Linked DNA regions of Homo sapiens: region 2 is linked to region 1. Evidence: fine-mapped expression QTL. A gene starts in region 1. The other region holds a variant in brackets. All regions are shown on one strand. Distances are between the middles of the regions. Region 1 holds the start of COX19 (cytochrome c oxidase assembly factor COX19). Region 2 overlaps ADAP1 (ArfGAP with dual PH domains 1).

What was found. PIP is the estimated chance that this variant, and not a neighbour inherited with it, causes the effect.
Region 2: its variant is the best candidate, but not a certain one, in a credible set for the expression of COX19 in lung (TOPMed, PIP 0.65).

Annotation. Positions count from the first base shown.
Region 1 is chr7:973,521-977,764 of GRCh38, forward strand. It overlaps COX19 (cytochrome c oxidase assembly factor COX19), which reads right to left and starts at 2,029. Exons shown (of 3, transcript NM_001031617.3): 1 at 1,908-2,029. The coding sequence starts at 1,989. RefSeq lists enhancers at 1,252-2,134, 1,434-1,503, 2,135-3,015 and silencers at 1,744-1,903, 1,924-2,203.
Region 2 is chr7:924,594-929,094 of GRCh38, forward strand. ADAP1 (ArfGAP with dual PH domains 1) reads right to left here. Exons shown (of 11, transcript NM_006869.4): 3 at 1,960-2,051. Among named protein-coding and RNA genes, the nearest start is that of ADAP1, 28 kb to the right of the region's middle. RefSeq lists enhancers at 156-265, 3,442-4,028, 4,284-4,373 and a silencer at 1,108-1,257. The variant G/A (reference allele first, on the strand shown) is at 2,184.

The DNA of each region.
Region 1 (4,244 bases):
AAAGTTAGCTAGGTGTGGCGCACGTCTGTGGTTCCAGCTACTCAGGAGGCTGAGGCAGGAAGATCGCTTGAGCAAAGGATTTCGAGGCTGCAGTGAGCTTGATCACACCACTGCACTCCAGCCTGGGCAACAGATCAAGACCTTGTCTCCTAAAAATAATCCAGGCTGGGCACGGTGGCTCACGCCTGTAATCCTAGCACTTTGGGAGGCAGAGGTGGGCGGATCACCTGAGGTCAGGAGTTCAAGACCAGCTCGGCCAACTTGGTGAAACCCCATCTCTATTAAAAATACAAAAATTAGCCGGGCATGGTGGCGGGTGTCTGTAGTCCCAGCTACTCGGGAGGCTGAGGCAGGAGAATTGCTTGAACCCAGGAAGCGGAGGTTGCAGCGAGTCGAGATCACACCACTGCACTCCAGCCTGGGTGACAGAGTGAGACTCCATTTCAAAAATAAATAAATAAATGATCCAGCCTGGTCAACATGGGGAAACTCCATCTTTAAAATAAAAAATAAAAAAACAATAATAATTAGCTGGGTGTGGTGTTGCACACCTATAGTCCCAGCTACTCTAGAGGCTGAGACAGGAGAATCGCTTGAACCCGGGAGGAGGAGGTTGCAGTGAGTCGAGATCACACCACTGCACTCCAGCCTGGGCGACACAGTGAGAGTCCATTTCAAAAATAAATAAATAAATAATCCAGCCTGGGCAACATGGGGAAACCCCATCTCTAAAAAAAAAAAAAAAAAAAAAATTAGCTGGGTGTGGCGCTGCACACCTATAGTCCCAGCTACTCTAGAGGATGAGACGGGAGACTCCCCTGAGTCCAGAAAGGAAGGAGGCCGAGGCTTCAGTGAGCTATGATTGCACCACTGCACTCCAGCCTAAGCAACAGAGTGAGACCGTGTCTCAAAACAAAAACAATCAAACCCAAACTTGTTTCCTTCATAAACATGCTGAAAACAACAATGGAAAAAACCCACAACGAGGTAAAGTCAGCCCAGTACGAGGTTAAGGTGCAATGTAGGTGATGGTCACAGGAGAGTTCAGGGTAAAAATTCTTTCATTTTTGCTATTTGAAAATGTCACAATAAAATGTTGGGAAAGAAACAGTAATTCACAGATCGTTTTTCTTTTCTTTTCTTTCTTTTTTTTTTTGAGACGTTGTCTCACTCTGTCGCCCAAGCTGCAGTGCAGTGGCCCGATCTCGGCTCACTGCAACCTCCGTCTCCCGGTTCAAGCGATTCTCCTGCCTCAGCCTCCCGAGTAGCTGGGACTACAGGCGAGCCACATCACACCCAACTAATTTTTGTATTTTTAGTAGAGACGGGGTTTCCCCATGTTGGGCAGGCTGGTCTCGAACTCCTGATCTTAAATGATCCGCCCACCTCGGCCTCCCAAAGGGCTGGGATCACAGGCATGAGCCACCGCGCCCGGCCCACAGATCCTTTTTCGAAGCCTTCATGTCCACGGAGGCAACCCCACCGGAATACGGCCAGAAGCACTGGGAGATCAGCAGCACTTTTGAGCTTTGCAGCAGACATCGCTAGGCACCGTCTAAGCCTCGGCTGCAGCTGCGGGCTTCGTGGCCGCCGAATGCCCCGCTCTGCAAACCCGGGGCACAGACAGCCCGCCGGGTGAGTCAGGGCGGAGCCGGAGACCCGGAAGCCTGACGCAAGGAGTCGGTGTCGCTGCCCTCGTCACGGGGGCCACGGTCCTGCCAGCTCCCACCTGCAGGGTCCATGCCGCAGCAGTGACCCAGGGCTGGGTGGGGCGGAGGGGCGGGCCGCCGTGCCTCAGTTTCCCCGCCTGCACCGCGCTAGATGCCGGCACCCCATAGGGCTCCGCGCTGGGCCGCGACCCAGACCCCCCATCGCAGACCCCTGCCCGCCGACCTTCCGCCGCTCACCTAAGTGATCCAGCGGGAAGCTGCCCTTGTCCGGGGGCCGCGGCTGGAAGCTCTTGGTCCCGAAATTCATGGCGGTCGACATGTTGGCGACTCCGGAGTCTGCGAGCGCCTTGCGAGCGTACGCAGGGCGGCCGGCGGAGCGCCGAGCAGGCACCCCGGGAGCGCCGAGCACGTCGAGCAGGCCCCGTCCCCGCCCCTTGCCCAGGCCCGGCCCCACCCCTTGCCCAGGCCCGGCCCCACCCCCTCGGAGTCAGCAAGCTCCTGAGCCCCGGTGGGCGCTGCCCGGGCTTTCCCGTCCCCTGGGACCCTCACAGCAGTCGGTAGCAGAATCAGCTTTTGGAATTGGTGAGAAACCGAGGCCCAGAAAGGTTCAGCGAATTGCCCGAGGACACATAGCGGTGCCGGCGTCTCTGCATCCCAGGTGTCTGCTGGGGCCTCGGTTTCCCCATCGCACAGAGACCTCATCACGGGGCCCATCCGGGGAGGAAGGCGGCACAGGAGGGACAGGAGAGCCTGTGGACTCGCTGCCTGCGGCTGCTGGAGCCAGGTGACACCACCGAGCAGCTTCAACAACAGGAATGTGCTCTCAGTCCTGGGGTCTGGAGTCCAAGCAGTGGGCAGAGTGGGGGCCCTGGGGACAGTCCCAGCCTCCCAGCTTCTGGGGGCCGCCAGCCTGTGAGGTTCCTTGGCTTGCAGAAGCACCACCTGGTCTCGGCCCCTACGTTCCCATGGTGTCCTGCGCATGTCCAAATTTACTATTTTTATTTATTTATTTGAGACAGGGTATTGCTCTGTTGCCCAGACTAGAGTGCAGTGGCATGATCACGACTCACTGCAGCCTCGACCTCCTGGGCTCAGCGATCCTCTCACCCCAGCCTCCTGAGTAGCTGCGACCACAGGCACACACCACCACACCAGGCTAATTTTTCTATTTTTCGTAGAGATGGAGTCTCCCTATGTTGCCCAGGCTGGTCCTTAACTCCTGGGCTCAGGCAATCCTCCTGCCTCAGCCTCCCTAAATGCCGGGATTATAGGCATGAGCCACCATGCCCAACCTAAATTTCCTCTTTTTATAAGGATAGCAGTCATGTTGGGTTAGGGGCCGTCCCAATAACTTCATCTTAACTAATTATATCAGCAGCAACCCTATTTCTTTGTTTTGTTTTTTAAAACGGAGTCTCTCTCTTGTTGCCCAGGCTGGAGTACAGTGGCTCGATCCTGGCTCATTGCAACCTCCACCTCCCAGGTTAAAGCAATTCTCCTGCCTCAGCCTCCCGAGTAGCTGGGATTACAGGCGCCACCAACACACCCAGCTAAGCTAATATATTTTTTTTCAACACAGAGTCTCACTTTGTAACCTAGACGGGCGTGCAGTGGTACGATCTCGGCTCACCGCAACCTCCACTTCCCGAGTTCAAGAGATTCTCCTGCCTCAGCCTCCAGAGTAGCTGGGATTACAGGCATGCGCCACCACACCCGGCTAATTTTTTGTACTTTTCGTAGAGACGGGGTTTCACCATGTTGCCCAGGCTGGTCTCGAACTCCTGACCTTAAGTGATCCGCCCACTTCAGCCTCCCAAAGGGCTGGGATGACAGGCGTGAGCCGCCGCACCTGGCACCTATTTCCAAAGCAAAGGTCACATCCTAAGGTCCTAGTGGCTTCACCATACGAATGGGGGTGGAGGGTAGTTACAGCTCAACCTAGGGCAGAATGAAAGTGTACTGTAAGCGGTAAGGCCCGGCCTTTGCGTGTCGATGTTGTCATGGCAACAGCAGTCGTGGGAAAGGGCTCAGTGAAGACCCCAGCGTCCACCCGCGGAGTCTCTCCCAGCCCTGAACCTGTACCCACATGCCCTGGCCATGAGGAAGTCGAACACTGGCCCGTTTAGAGCACCATGGGCGGCCCAAGCTCCAGCCTCCACTCACTCATCCATCCCACCCATTTCACAATCACTGGCCAGGCCTTCGTGGTAAGCACAGTGGGTCCCCAGCAACACCGAGTTCGCTGCCTGGCCCCCCGCTCTGGACCCTGGTGACACCTGAACCCACTGTTGCTTAGGAGCCAGTTCCTGCAACTTCCCAGGGGTTGTTTGCAGACAAGGGCTTGGTCAAGGCGGCCCAACAGCCCCCACCCCGGGGCCTGCCCTTCTTCAAGCCTGGCCCAGGCGTCCCCTCCCCATGAGGCTTCCAGCTCTCCCCCTTGCTGGGCCCTGGTGAGCCCGCCCCTCTGCAACGCACACCATTAGATTCCTGCGCCCAAGGTCGGACTCTGCTCTGTGTGCCCAGAGCTGAGCCGCGAGTCTGGCACTGAATGTTTCTGAACCGCAGGGCAGTGGG
Region 2 (4,501 bases), 49 kb before region 1:
TCCACACTGCACCCCTGCCATGCCCCAGCATCCACGGCTCATACAGGGATTCACACCCCACCCCAGATAGTGGGTGTCAGCCCTGGGAGTCTCCTCACCCAGGACCCAACAGCAGCAGCCCCTGAGTCCACGAGCACCCCCAGCCCCCCGCACCCATGTCAGCCCCCGGTCCCGACTCAGAACAGCCAGGGAGTGGGAGGAACTTGGAGACAGTGACCCAGGCCACAGAGCAGCTGGGGGCGGGGTGATAAAATAATGTCTTAAAAATAGCTGTGCTGGGGCTCCATGATTCATACCGAGAGCCCGGGGCACGGCCAGGGCAGGGTTCCCCTGTGAGGGCTCAGGGGGAGACAGCAGCTGGCACCTGGGGCCTCAGAATGAGAGTACGGGGGGCCAGGGCGCCAGGCCTGCCCGGGTGGGAAGGGAGAGGTGCATGCACGGGGCTGAGTCGCCAGCCTCGGCCTTCTCAGTGGCGATGTGGGGATTGCAGCTGGACCTGTCTCCAGGCTCACGGGAGGCTCATCAAGAAAACGCCTGCCAAGCACCTGGACGGGGGCCTCGTGACCCCAATAACAAATCAACATGCAGCCAAAGAAACTGAGTCGCTCGTGGCCTGAACACACCTCCAGCCCCTGCTCCCCGAAGACCCCGGGAGGGCCGGTTCATGCTGCAATCCCAGCACTTTGGGAGGCTGAGGCAGGAGGATCGCTTGAGCCCAGGAATTTGCAACCAGCCTGGGCAATGTAGGGAGACCCCGTCTCTATATTTAAAAAAAAAAAAAAAAAAAAAAGGCCCAGGATGGTGTGTAGGGTTGCAGCCGGGAAGTCCGTCCTTCCTCCCCTCTCCCTCCTCCCTCTTCCCTCCGGCCTCCCCTCCACCCTATCCCCCAACCCCCACCCGCCTTCCAGGGGCCTTCGGATCCAGTGAGGACCCCTGATCCCACTGCCCCTTCATGGAGCTCACTGCAGGGGGCACAGACCCCAAACAGGGCCCCGGATGCTGGGGAAGACCCCCTGGTCACTGCAGTCCCCACCAGCAGCTCCTGGGCAGGCAGAGCCCAGGCTGTCTCAGCCCCCGAGTCAGGGCAGAGCCAGCAACGGCACGTGGGCCCCTCATGGGCTGGGAGGCCAGGCGCCCGCCGCTTTCCTGCGGCACTGTTGGCTCACACCCAAACCCTGCACCCAGCTCGTGCTCGGGGTATCTCTGCGGGGTGGGCCCTCTGCTGAGTGGGTTCACGGAGTGAGTCAACGGAGGGCGGTGCCCAGTGAGGCTGGGATTGAACCAGGGCAGGAAGCATGGGGGGCCGGGAGGGCACCCAGTGGGCCAACACGTCTTTCCCCTGTGACAGGTACGAGGGGGTCGGTGCGAACAGTCAGGCTGGGCCCTGTGTGGTTGTCACCTCTCATTCCCACCGTCCGGGCAGATGGGGAGACTGAGGCTTGGAGGGGCGGGTGTTGGTGAAGGCGGCTGATGTGATACCGAGCAGGCCTCATTCCCTCTCTCCACAACCTCCCGATCCCAGGATGCTCAGAGGACTGGGTCTCAGGCTTCCCCAACCGGCCACCGGTACCCACGTCCGCTCCCGCCCTGAGGAGCCAGGGCAGGCCCCGAAACAACAGCCGCCCCTCCCGTTCCCCTCCCAGACCGCCAGGAGCACCTGGGAGGGCCCCTCAGATCCACCCGAGACCCCCAAGGCCTCAGCGAACCTGGGTGGGCTGTAGCTACTGATGCACAATGACCTTCCCAGCCCCACCCCAGCGCCCCCCGCCCCAGAACCAAAGCCCGGTGGTGGCCAGCAGACACAGGCGGCACCTCGGGGTCTGGGGGACGCAGCTGCGGCTGGCTTCTCCCCGACCCTGTGGGCGGCACCCAACTCCCCACCCTGCCGGGTCCTCCCGGGGCCATCTCGGAGCCACCCAGCACTTGACCATGGCCCTGACAAGGCCCCTTTGTACTCACTGGCAGTCGGAGGGCGTGGGCCGGTAGTAGAAGGAGGGTACTTTGGACTCAAACCTGGCTCTCGCGGCGTCGTTCCCGTGGGAGGCCATGAACTGCAAGAGAGGAGGGGCCGGGTCAGAGGCCTGGGGTCCCAGGGGCAGCCTAGGAGGTGCCAGCTGCCCTTGGGGCCGTCACCACAGTGACCCGCAGACCCAAGGCTCTGAGGGCTCCACCAGCACCAGGAC[G/A]GGAACGCCACCTCCTCCTGCCCCAGGGACACCATTTCTGAGTGATCGACCCTCCCCTGGGACAGGGAAGGAGCCAGCGTCCCTAACGACGGGGTCCCGGCAAAGGGGGCCCAGGGGCCAGGCCCCTTTTGAGGATGGGTCTGAGGTTTGCCCCACCGTTTCAACCCCCAAGTCCACCCACACCGGGTGTCCCGTGGGAGAGAGCTGGCTGCATCCTGTGACCCCCATCTCTGCCCCAGAGAGCGAGGGCTTCCTCGTTCACCCAGCTCCCCAGCTCACATTTAGCAAAGAGCCAACAGGCGCCAGACACGGGGGCCTGGAGATGGGCTGGTGAGCGAGAGACCCAGATGTGGCTAGGACAGAGTCTCTGAGGGGACTCTGCAGGGACACACTGCAGGGACCCAGAACATGTTTACGAAACAGGCTGAGGGAGAAGGAAACGGCGCCGTGAAGGAGGGGAGGTGCTGCAGGAGGCTGTCGTTCCAGGAGGCTCGTGCTCCAGGAGGCTGTCACGCACACTGTGCTCCTGGCAGGCGCAAAGGCCCTGAGGGTGGACGCTGGCAATGACCCTGCCGCCAGCCAGGTATGGTGAGCCTTGAGCAGCAGGAGGGGCCGCCACACCCCACGCCAGCCCCGAGGGCATGGGAGAGGTTCTGCTTGCTATGCTGTAAGCCCCCAAGGCAGCTGCTGTTTGCACCTTCAAGCTCCTGAACACCACTCGCCTGAGGCCGCAGCCAGGCCCAGCCAGACTGAAGTCCCCTGACATCACCCTGCTCCGAGGATCACATGGCAGTAAACAGGGAGGGCCCAGAAGAGCAGCTGGAGAAATCACAAGCAACAAGAGGCTGGCACCAATTTAAAATTCGAAAACCAATGGCTTTTCCATAGAAAACTCAAATACAAGGAGAGATCCTGTCACCAACAGCAACAGGACAAATCACCTGAGTGGCTGGATGAGAAATGTCCCAGGTCTCCAAGGGAAAACTGGCGTGTGCTCCCGAGGACGAGAGCCTCGACCCGAGACACAGGGAGGTAGAAAAATGTCTCCTTATGGGAGTCTACATGTTTTTTATAATAATTGCCAAAAAACAGCAACAGAATTTATTATATTTTTTTACCTAGAAATGGTTCTAAAGTTGAAAAAATTAACAAGGGCCAGCCGGGGACAGGGGCTCACATCTGTAGTCCCAGCACTTTGGGAAGCTGAGGTGGGAGGACCCCTTGAGCCCAGGAGTTCAAGACCAGCCTGGGCAACATAGTGAGACCCTGTCTCTCAAAAAAAAAAAAAAAAAAATTAGCCAGGTGTGATGGCGCACACCTGTAGTCCCAGCTACTAGGGAGGCCGAGGTGGGAAGATGGCCTCAACCTGGGAGTTTGAGGTCGCAGTGGGCTATGGTCGCACCACTGAACTCCAGCCTGGGCGGCAGAACAAGACCATGTCTCCACTGGACACAGCGGCTCACACCTGTAATCCCAGCACTTTGGGAGGCCGAGGCGGGAGGATCCCTTGAGCCCAAGAGGTCAAGGCTATGAGCTATGGTTACACCACTGCACTCCAGCTTGGGAAAAAGAGCAAGACCCTATCTCTGCAAAAAAAGGAAGGTAAAAATAAAAAATAAATAAAAATGGGTAAGGGTTTTTAAAATTACTTTTACATGCATATGTATACTTTTAATTTGTTTTAATGGAGGTGGGGTTCCACTCTGTTGCCCGGGCTGGTCTCAAACTCCTGGGCTCAAGCCATCGTCCCACCTCGGCCTAAAAATGGGGAAGGATTTGATCGGACATTTCTCCAAAGAAGATGCACAAATGGCCACTCGGCCACGCAAAGGCACTCAACACTGTTAGCTGTCAGGGGAACGCAGATGAAAACCTCAATGAGCTACCACCTCTCCCCACTAGGATGGCAAGGTCAAAGTGGCACAGGGGAGTGAGCTGGAGAGAATGTGGAGTGATCAGAGCCCCCGCACGCTGCTGGTGGGAACCTCCGGCTCTGGTGACTAACAGTCTGGCAGTTCCTCAAAACGGTAAACACAGAGTTACCATAGAGTCCAGCGATTCCTCTGCACCGTAAGAGACGCGAAGACGCAGAGACATGCACATGAGTGTTCACAGCACATTCTTCGTGACAGCTGAGAACGGGAACAAGCCCCAGCTCCGTGAACGGAACCACAGATAAACTAAATGTGATCGAGCCACACCATGGAGGGTTCCTCGGCCATAAAGAGGAATGCCGGCCGGGCGCGGGGGCTCACGCCTGTCATCCCAGCACTTCAGGAGGCAGAGGTGGGCAGATCACGAGGTCAGGAGTTCAAGAC